Homo sapiens: one gene and its partner. The protein of the gene in region 2 purifies or fractionates together with the protein of the main gene of each other region. This does not show direct contact. Each region holds a gene or a part of one and is shown on either strand. Other genes may lie near its edges.

Region 1 (7,025 bases), on a different chromosome or scaffold from region 2:
TCACGGAGCCAAGAGAGGGCCCCACAAATAAGACTTAAGGACTTCCCCTGCAGGAAGAAAAATGATCTTTAGAAACAGGAAAACAACAAAGCCTCCCAAATGACCTTTCCCCATTTTAATAAAAGCTTGAAAGAAGGTCTGGCTGTACATAGGAGAGGATGCTCTAAGACCAGCCTAGGAAAGGAAAGGAAGGAAATTAGCACTAGAATAGCCAGGAAAAACAGAAAAAAGAAAGAAATGGAAACTGGGCCCAAGAAGCAGGAAAAAGCTTCTTTAATTATCCAGCTCACTGTTCTGAAAACAAATTTGAAGCAGTTTATCAGATTCTATGTAAATATCGCACATAATTAGAAGAAGGGGAGACATTAGACAAAAAGTCCCCTAAAAGAATTAAGGCCCCAAAATGCTGAGCAAGAAATCCCAGGTACTCGCCAACAGGGAGCCAGAGTGACCGCGCGGCCTTCGTGCAGCTCGTGCGTGGATACAGGATGATCAGTCATGAGCGCCAGTGCTTACGGTTTGTGTTTTGTTTTGTTTTTTTTTTTTTAAGCAAACTAATCACTCTGGAAGACACCACTCTGTCTGTTTTTGAGAGGAGGTCTTGCTATGTTGCCCAGGCTGGTATGGAACTCCTGGGCTCACACAGTTCTCTGGCCTCAGCCTCCCAAGTGGCTGGGACCATAGGTGTGCGCCTCCATATACAGACTGGAGAACACTACCCTTGACTTAAGACCAGAATTTTCCATAAGCCTGATTGAGTTGTATTCCTCCAAATTCCTGTGTTGAAATCCTAACCCCCAGCATCTCAGAATGTGGCCTGATCTGGAAATAGGACTGTCGCAAATGTAATTAGTTAAGATGAGACTACTAGGACGGGACCCAGCCTAAAGGGCTAATATCCTTATTGGAAAGGGGACACGTGGATGCAGACATGCACAGAAGGCAGGCGATGTGATGATACCCAAGGAGAACACGCCACCTATAAGCCAAGGAAAGGGGCCTGAAGAGATCTTTCCCTCACGACCCTCAGAAGGGACCAAGCATGCTGACACCTTGATCTCGGACTCCAGCCTCCAGCGCTGTGGGATGTCAGTTTCTGTTGTTTAAGCCCCAGTTTGTGAAGCTTTCCTCTAGCAGCCCCAGGGAACCAATACAGTTCTTCCAGAGAGGACCCTTCAGGGAGCGCCACAAGGAGGCGGCCCTGGTGTCCACAGGGGAACTCAGCTCAGGGGAGTCTCTGGAGGACCCCATGCCTTCTGCTCCAGGCAGTCAGCTCTCTGAGCCTGCTGAACCCAGAGGGGATCTCAGAGTATCCAGGGCGGGGTGAAACACCTCGTATGACTACGGTTGGGGCAGCAGCGCGGCGCAGGAGTCAGAGTCTCAAACTCCACAGCCAGGTGCCAGGGTTCCAGCTGTCTCCCCCACCTGCAGCTCTGTGGCTCAGGCTGGCCTCACTACGCTTGTTTCCACGAGTGCAGAAATGGAAATGACAACAGCGGCACCTTCCTCATAGAGCTGGTGCAAGCAGGACATTAACACACACAAAAGGCCAAATCCTCTGGATTAGAGGATTACCTGGCAAATAACAAGTGAGCGGTTGGAGTTAGCTAACTTTTTGCTATCATTAAGTAATAATAATAAAATTATTAATAGCATTATTCTGGAATATGGGATCTATTAGTTTTCATCAAAATCTTGAAAGGCCCTGGGATAGGATAGAATGACATTGTTGACAAATGGATGGATCCCATATTTTTAGGAAAGCCCCATATGTACCATTTCCCTCAGCTTTTGATAGAAAGTAAATGGCAAAGAGTTCCAGGCAGCATTTCCCAGCAGCACCTGGAGGGCGGCTCTTCTGTGCTGTCTGTGATATCGGAAGCAGTCAGCTTCAGCTGTCACTGGGCTGGGAGACACAATGGTTAGAAAGCCAGTGCCCTCCATTTGAAAGTGAGCTGAGGAAGTTCCTAAGGGTATGGTCAAAGTTATCTTTCAAAAACAACCGTGGTATACTCCGGCACAACAGCAAAAGAATAACTGAGGCCCACTGTTTTCTACATCGTGTAATAAGACCACAAAACTTTTAGACTGGAAAATGTTAAAAGGATTTATAACCAAAGGCTCACCTTCCTGGGGTATCATCAACAGTTACATGATTTATGCCAAGATAAGCAAATTCATTCACTCTGAACACCTGCTGGTTGCAGCAAGCATGGGGCTCAGAGCTGAGGACACAAAGGTGCAGAGCCCCTAGAAAATGCTCACAGGTTCACATGTAACATACAATTCGAGGGCATCATAGATCCCCGCAAAGCATGCATTCCAGGTTGGATGACTCCCGGAACTGCAGTATTACACAAGGCACAGCACACACCAAGTGGTAATGGTGACTCAACTTGATAGACCTGTATAAGGCTTAAAAGGTGACTATCAAGGATAAACAGCATCTGGGGCAGCTAAGGTGGGGCACCTGTGCATCCACGGCGGGGAAGGGCATGGTAGGCACAACAGGTAACACAAACCCCACTCAGGGTGTCCCACAGCATGGCTGCTTCTATGGGCTGCGGGACACCCAGGACAGGAGAAAACACTCTATTCAGGAGATGATTTAGAAGACAGAAGAATGTCAAAGGTAATAAAGCCACAGGGTACATTCACAGAGACTGCACACAAGAAGATGAAGCTATAGAACCAGAAACATCGACAATTAAAGGCTGAGCAGAGGAAGAAGACGCAGAAGCCTGGAGTGCAGAAGACTGAGATGGAAAGACCTGAGAGGGAGAAGATGGGTTGTCAGGCTAAACAAGGTGAAAGGGGTCAGGTACAGTGGCTCATGCCTGTAATCTCAGCACTATGGGAGGCCAAGGAGGGAGGATTGCTTGAGCCTAGGGGTTTAAGACCACCGGCCTGAGCAGCATAGTGAGATCTCATTTCTACAAATTAAAAAATTAGCTAGGTGTGATGGTGCACACCTGTAGTCCCAGCTGCTCAGGAGGCTGACGTGGGAAGATCACTTGTTGCCAGAAGGTTGAGGCTGCAGTAAACCATGATCTTAACACTGCACTCGGCCCTGGGCAACAGAGCAACACCCTGTCTCTAAAATTAAACAAGGCAGAATGAACATGCACTCATCTGTGTTCCAAAGCACACTAAAATTAACCAAAGTAATATGGAGGCTTACACCCACAAAAAGAAAGTGGAAGGAGTAATATGTTTTAGGAGAGAGGGAAAGAAGGCAGAGACATGGAAGTGATTTCGGCAGAGACACTCAAGCCCAAGTGTCCCCAGAGATCTCCCCCACTCATTCTCAGAAAGACTCAGGAAGTGGTAGGAACACAGCAGGCCACTGAAAACAAAGGGACGGGTTGAAATTCTTTTTAAGAACAATTAGATTCTCAGGTTGCAATCCCTGCTCCTGCTCCTTGCAGAAGACAGGAAGTGGGCTCTAAGTGGAAGCTGAGCTAGGAGAGCCCTGGAGGCAACCGGCAGATTGAGGAGGCAAGAGGGAGGGGGAGGAGGGCCAGGCTGAAAGCAGGCACTGAGGGGGACTCTCCACCTGGATCCCCTTCCCCAGACCACCTCCCGGAAGACCGGCTATTGGGCTTCAGCGTCTGTACCTGCTGGGCCAGGGCTCAGAGGCACCTGCTCTGGAGAGACTGAAGACTCTAGGGAAAATCCCACAGATGTGCTGGCAACTGGAGGCCCCCAACAAAGGAGCCCAGCCTGGCAGCCACAGCCAGTGCCCTGCAGACTCAGCCTTTCTGTGCCCTGTTCTTCAGCATACACAGGCAGTCCAGGGCTGCCAGACGTTTGAGGAAAGCCTCCAAACGGACGTATACCCTGATGTGGTGTGGGTGCGGCCGTCTGTCCCCATTAACACTCATGCTGAAATCTGTCAAGTCAGTCTGAGGAGCAACTAATTCAAATGACAGGGAAAGGATGGAGGATTCCAGGAGGGCTCCAAGGTAAAAATGGAATTGGTCACTGCTGTGGACTGAATTGTATCCCCACCAAAATGCATGTTAAAAAAATGTTTTTAAAGAACAAAAACAAAACAAAAGAAGCTGTGTATGGTGGTGTGCACCAGTAATCTTGGATCTTGCCAGCCACCAGGTACTTGGGAGGCTGAGAGGGGAGGATCGCTTGAGTTCGAGACCAGCCTGGGCCACATAGTGAGACTGCCCATCTTAACAAACAAACATATGTTGAAATCCTAACCCCGCCATGTGACTCTACTACAGATCTGGCCTTCAAGGGTAAAGGAGGTCATAACGGAGCAGCCATAAGGGAGCAGCCCTTGTCCTCATAAAAGAGAAAGAGACACCAAAGATTTGTTTTTCTCCTCCTCGTCTTTTCTTGCTCCACAGTAAGAACGCAGCCATCTGCAAGCCAGGAAGAGACCCCCTCCCCAGAACCAGAACCCTGCCAGAATCTGGATCTTCAACTTTCCAGCCTCCAGAATGGTGAGAAAATAAATTCCTGTTAAGTCACCCAGTCTATGGTATTTTACTATGGCAGTCCTGGCCGACTAAGACAGGAGTTATCTGTATGGAAAATCATATTGAGAGGCCACTGGATGATGTGGGAGGAACTGGCATAGGTATATTAAAAACTAAACTAACTTTAAAAGGGCAATTATTAACTAGAAAAAACAGAATATTAAGACATATTGTTCAAGACAAAATTATGTTCAAAACATAATCATAACACACTGGTTCACTCAGCAGAGACTAAAACTTAGAATTATATTTGAAGGATGGGGAACGGGAGGGAAAAGAGTTGGTAAGAAAGCCGTCTCATCTACCGTAATAGGTAGGCACCAATGACTTCAGCCTAATTTTTCTCAGACCACAGAGCTATGTTTAAGACTTTAGGCCGGGCACGGTGACTCATGCCTGTAATCCTAGCACTTTGGGAGGCCGAAGCGGGCGGATCACGAGGTCAGAAGACTGAGATCATCCTGGCTAACACGGTGAAACCCTGTCTCTATTAAAACTACAAAAAATTAGCCGGGCGTGGCGGCGGGCACCTGTAGTCCCAGCAACTCAAGAGGCTGAGGCAGGAGAATGGCGTGAACCCGGGAGGCGGAGCTTGCAGTGAGCCGAGATCGTCCCACTGCACTCTGGCCTGGGCGACACAGCGAGACTCCGTCTCAAAAAAAAAAAAAAAAGACTTTAATAGAGGAAGTGACTATTACTCAGATAAACAGAGACTACTCTGCCCAACTTCAAACTATGAAAATCTCTGGATAGGCAAACAGGAAAAGCTAGTACGGCTGCTGTTAAGTTGTCCTTTTCAGTATCTCTCACTGTTCATACTCACAGTGCCAGTTGGACTCTCAAATATCCCAATCTTGCCAGCCTCCAAAACCCGGTACAGCTCTGCCATGAAGTCTTCCTGGATGGAATAGGGTGTGAAGGGAAAAGGAAAATGGATGGCACCAACCTTCTGTGTTTCATTAGCCATGGACCTAGGAAAAATAAATACAACATTAGGGAGCTCTCTCATGGTCCAGGAAGAAGTGGCTTGAAATCTGGAGCATTATTTAAGAGCAGTCTCCACACTTATTACCAAATTTCTCCTTTTTTCTGGGAAGCAGAGACCATGTTCTCTCCATCCTTCGCAGCAGGTCCACGTGAGGCCATACCAGAATCACGCACTCCATCTAGCGGCATTTAACGGCTGTAGCAGAATGCAGACCAGGAAAGCCCCTAAACCCAATCTCCCCTGCATTTCACCGTGGCTCCGATACCTTTCTAATGCCTCTACAAAAGGCTTAGAGCTCTCTTCTCACAGACCAGCACCCCTAAGATCAAGGGTGTTGCTTATAATGACTTTTGCAGCTTTCTTCTCCCACGTCTCTGCAATGCACATTCACAAGCCGAAGCTACTTCACTTTATCCCGTTGTGAAGTCCTGGAAAATCATGACGCACAGGCAGAGGACCATAAGCACAGCTTGTTGTTTGGATAGCGCAAGTTAACATACACGTCCCTATCTTTTTTTTTTTTTTTTTCGAGACAGAGTCTCACTCTGTCGCCCAGGCTGGAGTGCAGTGGCGCAATCTCGGCTCACTGCACGCTCCGCCTCCCGGGTTCACACCATTCTCCTGCCTCAGCCTCCCGAGTAGCTGGGACTACAGGTGCCCGCCACCACGCCCAGCTAATTTTTTTTTTTGGTAGAGACGGGGTTTCACCGTGTTAGCCAGGATGGTCTCGATCTCCTGACCTCGTGATCCGCCCGCCTTGGCCTCCCGAAGTGCTGGGATTACAGGCGTGAGCCACCGCACCCGGCCTACACGTCCTTATCTTACAAGTATCTTTAGTTTGCTTCTTAGTTCATCCTGGCCTCCATTTCCAGCACCGAACAGAGCCACCACCTACTAACTTTTCTGGCCTCTAGACCTATGAGCTTTCTGTTTGGTTCCAGACAGGAGAGCTCTCTTCACAGCCACGGGGCTCTGGCTGGAACAGCTTCCCAGTACTGAGACCAGGCATTTCTCTTTCCTTGCTAGGCTAAGGTCTAAGAAAAACTCTGCTCCACGTTGACGTCATCTTTTTTTTTCTCCTCTCCTGAACCTAATTATCTCTGAGACAGTGATTCAAGGAAGAAAGGAGAAGTAAACGCTATCTGGAGGCCTGACTCTTCCATCCTGGTTCCCACACCTCTCTCTTTGGAACTCACTTCTCCAAGCTCTTTGCCAGGTCTGTCTCTTCTAAGCACAAATGTTAGTAAGTCCCAAACCCATTTTACTAATATTAGTAGATCGAGAGCCCATCTTTATAACTTTGGCCTCAATAAGACTAGTGATAGTGTCACTCTATTTACGAGGGGAAAGGTAGTTGCCACGATGCTCTTCGGTTTAGGGGCAATTAAAATGACTACAGATTGGTGGCAGTTTATGGATTTGCACAAGAAGAGAGAACTCACAGAACTAGCATTATTTTACCCTCTGTCTTCACAGAGGTATATTTGGCTGTTTTGTTAGACATTCTGGGGACAAGAAAAAATGAAAAAAGAAAAACA
Region 2 (7,025 bases):
TTACAAGGGCAGGTCTGAGGTCCAGTTCCTGCGGGGGCGGTCAAGATGGAGGGTGGGGGCTGGCAGGGGCCTGGGGGAGCCTCCTTCCCCCACGCACCCCCTCGGTAGTGGGATGGATGGGCTCCTTACCTGCTGCCACTCTGCCTCCGTGCCGTGTGTGAATCCCAGCAAGTGACAGAGTCCGTGGGTGGCCGTCACCTGTCAGAATAATTTTAAACCGGCTCAGAGGATGACCCCACAGGAACCTGCCCCTTCAGGGCCACCCCAGGGCCACAGGCTGCTCTTGGTATGTGGCTGCAGGACCCCAGGGTTGCTGTGAGACCCCTGGGCAGGAATTACAGGCACTCAGCTTCAGTTCCCTTCCATCTAAAATGGAAAGCAAGCAAGCCCCTTTGAGAGTCTTTAGTCAACGTGGATTGCTGTCTGGGCCAGCACTGTGCTGGGGAGGGGCCCCCAGGATGGAACTGCCCAGCCGCAGGAGCAATGGGCAAGGGGGGATGGAATATGAAGAAGTGGGGAGGGGTGGGTGCCACGGGGTGGTGGGGCAGTGGGGCACCGGCCAGGGGTGGCCTCCCTGCCCTAAGAGGGACGAGGCAAGCGCACAGCCCACACCCCAGGTCCAACCCCCAGTCAGGATGGGGCCTCCGGTGGCCCCTGATTTTACTGAACACTCTGGGTAGAGCTTTGGGGCACAGGCAGCACAGGGAGTGCGGGAGAGGTATGAAGGCGGAGGCGGAGGGAGGTGCAGCTGCTGGTGAGTCAGGAAGACCCACAGTCGCCATGTCCCCCTGGAGAGAGGGCTGGATTAAAGCCCACAGGGGAGGGGCACCCGGATGGAGCCCAGAGCTGGGGGAAGAGGAGGAGGAGGAGGAAGAGGAGGGAGGGCCTGTGGACCCTGAGCAGGCACAGCACCAAGGGGGTTTATGGAGCCACATGGGCCATAGGGGTAGCACTCCCCTGGGGTTTGGGTGGAGGGAAGAGGGAGGTCTGGGAGGTGGGTATCCTTGGGGCTGGCGGGAGGTGCCTGGAGACATGGAGGACAAGGCAGGGTAGATGGAGAGTGCAGCTGAGAGCCAGCCCTGAGCAGAGCTGGCCTGGCCTGTGGCTATGAGGATGGGGTCCTGGGCTGGTGGGCTGGCCCTCCCCTCAGGGTAATAGGGAGCCCCAAGGAGAGGGCTCTGGGCCCGAGGAAGAAATGCCAGGGGAAGACCAGGGAACAGAATCTTAGGTTTGGGGAAAATGGAAGCAGATGTCCACATACCCCCCCGCCCACAGTTGCTGGCCACAGAGATCCCAGGGCTGAATCTCCGGCTGGGCCACTTCCTGTCACTCTCAGAAACTCCCTCTTCCCCAGCAGGGTGTGCATGGCGGGCAAGTCCCACCCAGGTCTGGAGGGAGCAGTTGGGGCCCAGGTTCCTGTGTGGCCGTCCCATCCTTTCACACTGGGTCTGGCTGGGAAGCTCTGCCTCAAGCCACACAGATGCACTTGGATCCACAAGGGCGATTCAGGGCATGGCTGTGCAGCCAAAGGAGGCCAAGTTAAGTATGATTCACTCATACATGGCTTTTCAGAATGCTTTTCCTTTTTTTTTTTTTTTTTTGGCATCAAGCTGCTGAAACCACCTGTGCAAAAATGATAACAGTGAGAGAGGTCTGGGGTGGCTGACTCCACTGAGTCCCGGGCACGGGTCAGGCTAACCGCGGGAGGAATTTAATCTAGAGTCTAACTTGCGTGGCTGTCCCCACTGAGTCCCGGGCACGGGTCAGGCTAACCGCGGGAGGAATTTAATCTAGAGTTTAACTTGTGTGGCTGACTCCACTGAGTCCCGGGCACGGGTCAGGCTAACCGCGGGAGGAATTTAATCTAGAGTCTAACTTGCGTGGCTGTCCCCACTGAGTCCCGGGCACGGGTCAGGCTAACCGCGGGAGGAATTTAATCTAGAGTTTAACTTGTGTGGCTGTCCCCACTGAGTCCCGGGCACGGGTCAGGCTAACCGCGGGAGGAATTTAATCTAGAGTTTAACTTGCGTGGCTGACTCCACTGAGTCCCGGGCACGGGTCAGGCTAACCGCGGGAGGAATTTAATCTAGAGTCTAACTTGCGTGGCTGACTCCACTGAGTCCCGGGCACGGGTCAGGCTAACCGCGGGAGGAATTTAATCTAGAGTTTAACTTGTGTGGCTGACTCCACTGAGTCCCGGGCACAGGTCAGGCTAACCGCGGGAGGAATTTAATCTAGAGTTTAACTTGTGTGGCTGACTCCACTGAGTCCCGGGCACGGGTCAGGCTAACCGCGGGAGGAATTTAATCTAGAGTCTAACTTGTGTGGCTGACTCCACTGAGTCCCGGGCACGGGTCAGGCTAACCGCGGGAGGAATTTAATCTAGAGTCTAACTTGCGTGGCTGACTCCACTGAGTCCCGGGCACGGGTCAGGCTAACCGCGGGAGGAATTTAATCTAGAGTCTAACTTGTGTGGCTGTCCCCACTGAGTCCCGGGCACGGGTCAGGCTAACCGCGGGAGGAATTTAATCTAGAGTCTAACTTGCGTGGCTGTCCCCACTGAGTCCCGGGCATGGGTCAGGCTAACCGCGGGAGGAATTTAATCTAGAGTCTAACTTGCGTGGCTGACTCCACTGAGTCCCGGGCACGGGTCAGGCTAACCGCGGGAGGAATTTAATCTAGAGTCTAACTTGCGTGGCTGTCCCCACTGAGTCCCGGGCACGGGTCAGGCTAACCGCGGGAGGAATTTAATCTAGAGTCTAACTTGCGTGGCTGACTCCACTGAGTCCCGGGCACGGGTCAGGCTAACCGCGGGAGGAATTTAATCTAGAGTCTAACTTGTGTGGCTGTCCCCACTGAGTCCCGGGCACGGGTCAGGCTAACCGCGGGAGGAATTTAATCTAGAGTCTAACTTGTGTGGCTGACTCCACTGAGTCCCGGGCACGGGTCAGGCTAACCGCGGGAGGAATTTAATCTAGAGTCTAACTTGCGTGGCTGACTCCACTGAGTCCCGGGCACGGGTCAGGCTAACCGCGGGAGGAATTTAATCTAGAGTTTAACTTGTGTGGCTGTCCCCACTGAGTCCCGGGCACGGGTCAGGCTAACCGCGGGAGGAATTTAATCTAGAGTTTAACTTGCGTGGCTGTCCCCACTGAGTCCCGGGCACGGGTCAGGCTAACCGCGGGAGGAATTTAATCTAGAGTTTAACTTGTGTGGCTGACTCCACTGAGTCCCGGGCACGGGTCAGGCTAACCGCGGGAGGAATTTAATCTAGAGTTTAACTTGCGTGGCTGTCCCCACTGAGTCCCGGGCACAGGTCAGGCTAACCGCGGGAGGAATTTAATCTAGAGTTTAACTTGTGTGGCTGTCCCCACTGAGTCCCGGGCACGGGTCAGGCTAACCGCGGGAGGAATTTAATCTAGAGTCTAACTTGTGTGGCTGTCCCCACTGAGTCCCGGGCACGGGTCAGGCTAACCGCGGGAGGAATTTAATCTAGAGTTTAACTTGCGTGGCTGACTCCACTGAGTCCCGGGCACGGGTCAGGCTAACCGCGGGAGGAATTTAATCTAGAGTTTAACTTGTGTGGCTGACTCCACTGAGTCCCGGGCACGGGTCAGGCTAACCGCGGGAGGAATTTAATCTAGAGTCTAACTTGCGTGGCTGTCCCCACTGAGTCCCGGGCACGGGTCAGGCTAACCGCGGGAGGAATTTAATCTAGAGTTTAACTTGCGTGGCTGTCCCCACTGAGTCCCGGGCACGGGTCAGGCTAACCGCGGGAGGAATTTAATCTAGAGTTTAACTTGCGTGGCTGTCCCCACTCAGTCCCGGGCACAGGCCAAGCTAACCACGGGAGGAATTTAATCTAGAGTTTAACTTTAAATCAAGAATAGTAATCATCCCTCCCTAAAACGAATCCCCTCCTTGCTCAAGACCGAAGCCACCTCTGTGAAGCTTGTGAAGGGCCACAAGATTAGGATGATGGGAGGGGCCTGAATTCTGCTCAGATGTAGGTGTCCTGAGGAGAACCAGCCCGCAGGCCTTGCTTCCCCAGCTTGCCCTGCTGTAATTCCCTACTGCTCAGGACTCACGCAGCCAGAGGTCACGAGATTTGTGACCGCCCCAATTGCTCCCCAATAAGATAACGTCAATAGTACAACCTAAGAATGGTCTTTTGGGATGTTTTTCAGACTTTTGAGTTCTGGCAACCTACAGACTCCACCTGGACCTGAGACTCATGACTCAGCTGATCCCGTGGCTCCACGCAGAGGCGGACTCAGGGGACAAAAATCGTTGACACCCCATGGTCCGTCTGCAGCCGATCAGCAGCAGGCATTCCCTAGCCCCTGCCTGCCAAATTGCCTGTAGAAACTGTAGCCTCTGAGTTCTCTGGGAGATTGAGTTGAATAATAACTCCAGCCTTTCTGCTTGGCTAGCTCTGTGTTAAACTCTTTCTCTACTGCAATACCACAATTGCAGTGAATTGGTTTTGTCTGTGCAGTGGGCAGGAAGAACCCATAGGTGGATTACACTGAGGAGAAACAGATCTGGAAGGTGGTGGAGGCTCCAACTTCTGTACTTCTGGCAGCTCAGAAAGAAGCTGATTCAGCAGGTCTGTGTTAGCTCAACATAGTCTGCTCTACTCCAGAGATAAAAGCTGAGAAGGCTTCTCTGGGAGCTTCTGTGTTTTCACAGCGTGTTCTCTCCCTCCTTCAACTGTGGCATGGGGCATGCAGTCCCTACCCAGCCTGGGTGCTCCTCACACCCTGCTTACAGGTTCTTCCCCCAGTAGCCCTTACGGTACCCACGGACACACATGGATGCAGGGTTGTGATCTTGACCCCTTTGCAAGGCCCATGTTCCATGAGCCAGGTTATATGATTTCAGCATCCCCGCTTACAGTCAGGACGTCATTGTAATCTTCATTTTCTTTACACTGATGGAAGATATACTCCACTCCTAGGAAAATGTCTCCCAAATTGTAGTCATCTGGAAAATCAGGCTGGGGAAATTCACCTGCTTTCAGATGCTAAAAAATGAGGAAATGTAGACTTAGAGAACAGGAAACGTAACCCAACCACAGGTTGACAGGTTTCATCCTGGTTAATCCCAAGGCAAATAAGCACTTATCTCTGAGCCAAATCACTTTTTTTTTTTTTTTTTTTGAGACGGAGTTTCACTCTTGTTGCCCAGGCTGCAGTGGAATGGCGCGATCTCGGCTCACTGCAACCTCTGCCTCCCGGGTTCAAGTGATTCTCCTGTCTCAGCCTCCTGAGTAGCTGGGATTACAGGTGCATGCCACCGTGCCCAGCTAATTTTTGTATTTCTTTTTTTTTTTTTTTTCCTGAGACAGAGTTTCCCTCTTGTTGCCCAGGCTGGAGTGTCCGCCTCCTGGGTTCAAGCAATTCTCCTGCCTCAGCCTCCCGAGTAGCTGGGACTACAGGCATGCGCCACCACGCCCGGCTAATTTTGTATTTTTAGTAGAGACTGGGTTTCTCCGTGTTGGTCAGGCTGGTCTCAAACTCCCAACCTCAGGTGATCCACCCGCCTTGGCCTCCGAAAGTGCTGGGATTACAGGCGTGAGCCACCGCGTCTGGCCTAATTTTTGTATTTTTTAGTAGAGATGGGGTTTCATCATATGGGTCAGGCTGGTCTCGAACTCCTGACCTCAGGTGATCTGCCTGCCTCAGCCTCCCAGAGTGCTGGGATTACAGGCGTGAGCCACTGTGCCAGCCACCCAAATCACTCTTAAGATGCATGTCTCAGGCCAGAGTGGCAGCTGGGCCTGTGGCGGGTGGGTTGCCCAGCCAACCGTACACAAGTGCCCTAAATTGTTTCCATTGTGAAAATTGTCAGAATAGCCAGGCGTGGTGGCTCACAGCTGTAATCCCAGCACTTTGGGAGGCCGAGGCGGGCAGATCAAGAGGTCAGGGGTTTGACACCAGCCTGACCAACATGGTGAAACCCCATCTCTACTAAAAATACAAAAATTAGCCAGGTGTGATGGCACATGCCTGTAACCCCAGCTACTCGGGAGGCTGAGGCAGGAGAATCGCTTGAACCTGGGAGGCGGAGGTTGCAGTGAGCCCCTAGACTGCGCCATTGCACTTCAGCCTGGCTGACAGAGCAAGACTCCGTCTCAAAAAAAAAAAGGAATTTGTCAGAATAAAAATGGAGCCATTAGGGTTATACAAACAAACCAAAAAACCTGACAAATAGAGCTGGGGAAAGCTATGAAGAGAGGATTCTCATACTTCCATGCCTGATAACAAAAACTGTCACTAAAGATGGCAAAAACTGCAACAAAGGCTATGACAACCTTACACACATACAAAACTGCAACCTTGCACAAAGGCTATGACAACCTTACACACACACACGAAACTGCAACCTTGCACAAAGGCTATGACAACCTTACACACACACAAAACTGCAACCTTGCACAAAGGCTATGACAACCTTACACGCACACAGAAACTTCTGCAAGGATAATCTGCCCAGCAACTGCCTGTCTAACCTTGGACGGACATTAATCTTGTTATTGATCTTTGCAACCAAGGATCATTATCTCAAAACAATTATGTTTTTTTCCTTTAAAAACCTTTGCCAGGCGGGGCTCAGTGGCTCACGCCTGTAATCCCAGCACTTTGGAAGGCAGAGGCGGGTAGATCACCTGAGGTCAGGAGTTCTAGACCAGCTTGGCCAACATGGTGAAACCCCAACTTTACTAAAAATACAAAAAAAAAAAAATTAGCCAGATGTGGTGGTGGGCGCCTGTAATCCCAGCTACTCGGGAGGCTGAAGCAGGAGAATCGCTTGGACCTGAGAGGTGGAGGTTGCAGTGAGCCGAGATTGTGCCATTGCACTCCAGCCTGGGTGACAGAGCAAGCCTCCGTCTCAAAAAAAAAAAAAAAAACAAAACCCTTGCCTTCCTTTACCTCCCTGAATATGCGAATATCCACACAGTCTACTATGGCATGTGGCATGTATTTTCACTGCAATGCTCTATCCCAAATAAACATCCTTTT

What was found. Proteins that work in one complex are often made in the same cells at the same time.
Region 1: the proteins of YBEY (region 2) and DDX11 purify together in Homo sapiens (affinity purification with mass spectrometry; 2 studies listed by BioGRID and IntAct, with this or other methods). This does not show direct contact.

What each region holds. Positions count from the first base shown.
Region 1 is NC_000012.12:31,076,835-31,083,859, reverse strand, and holds part of DDX11 (ATP-dependent DNA helicase DDX11), read right to left. Parts: intron 5,916-7,025; exon of another isoform or gene 5,676-5,915; coding exon of another isoform or gene 5,572-5,675; intron 5,471-5,571; coding exon of another isoform or gene 5,467-5,470; coding exon 5,323-5,466; intron 48-5,322; coding exon 1-47. UniProt on the Homo sapiens protein: DNA-dependent ATPase and ATP-dependent DNA helicase that participates in various functions in genomic stability, including DNA replication, DNA repair and heterochromatin organization as well as in ribosomal RNA synthesis.
Region 2 is NC_000021.9:46,289,335-46,296,359, reverse strand, and holds part of YBEY (endoribonuclease YbeY), read right to left. Parts: intron 5,027-7,025; coding exon 4,898-5,026; coding exon of another isoform or gene 4,871-4,897; exon of another isoform or gene 3,842-4,870; intron 199-3,841; coding exon 130-198; intron 1-129. UniProt on the Homo sapiens protein: Single strand-specific metallo-endoribonuclease involved in rRNA maturation.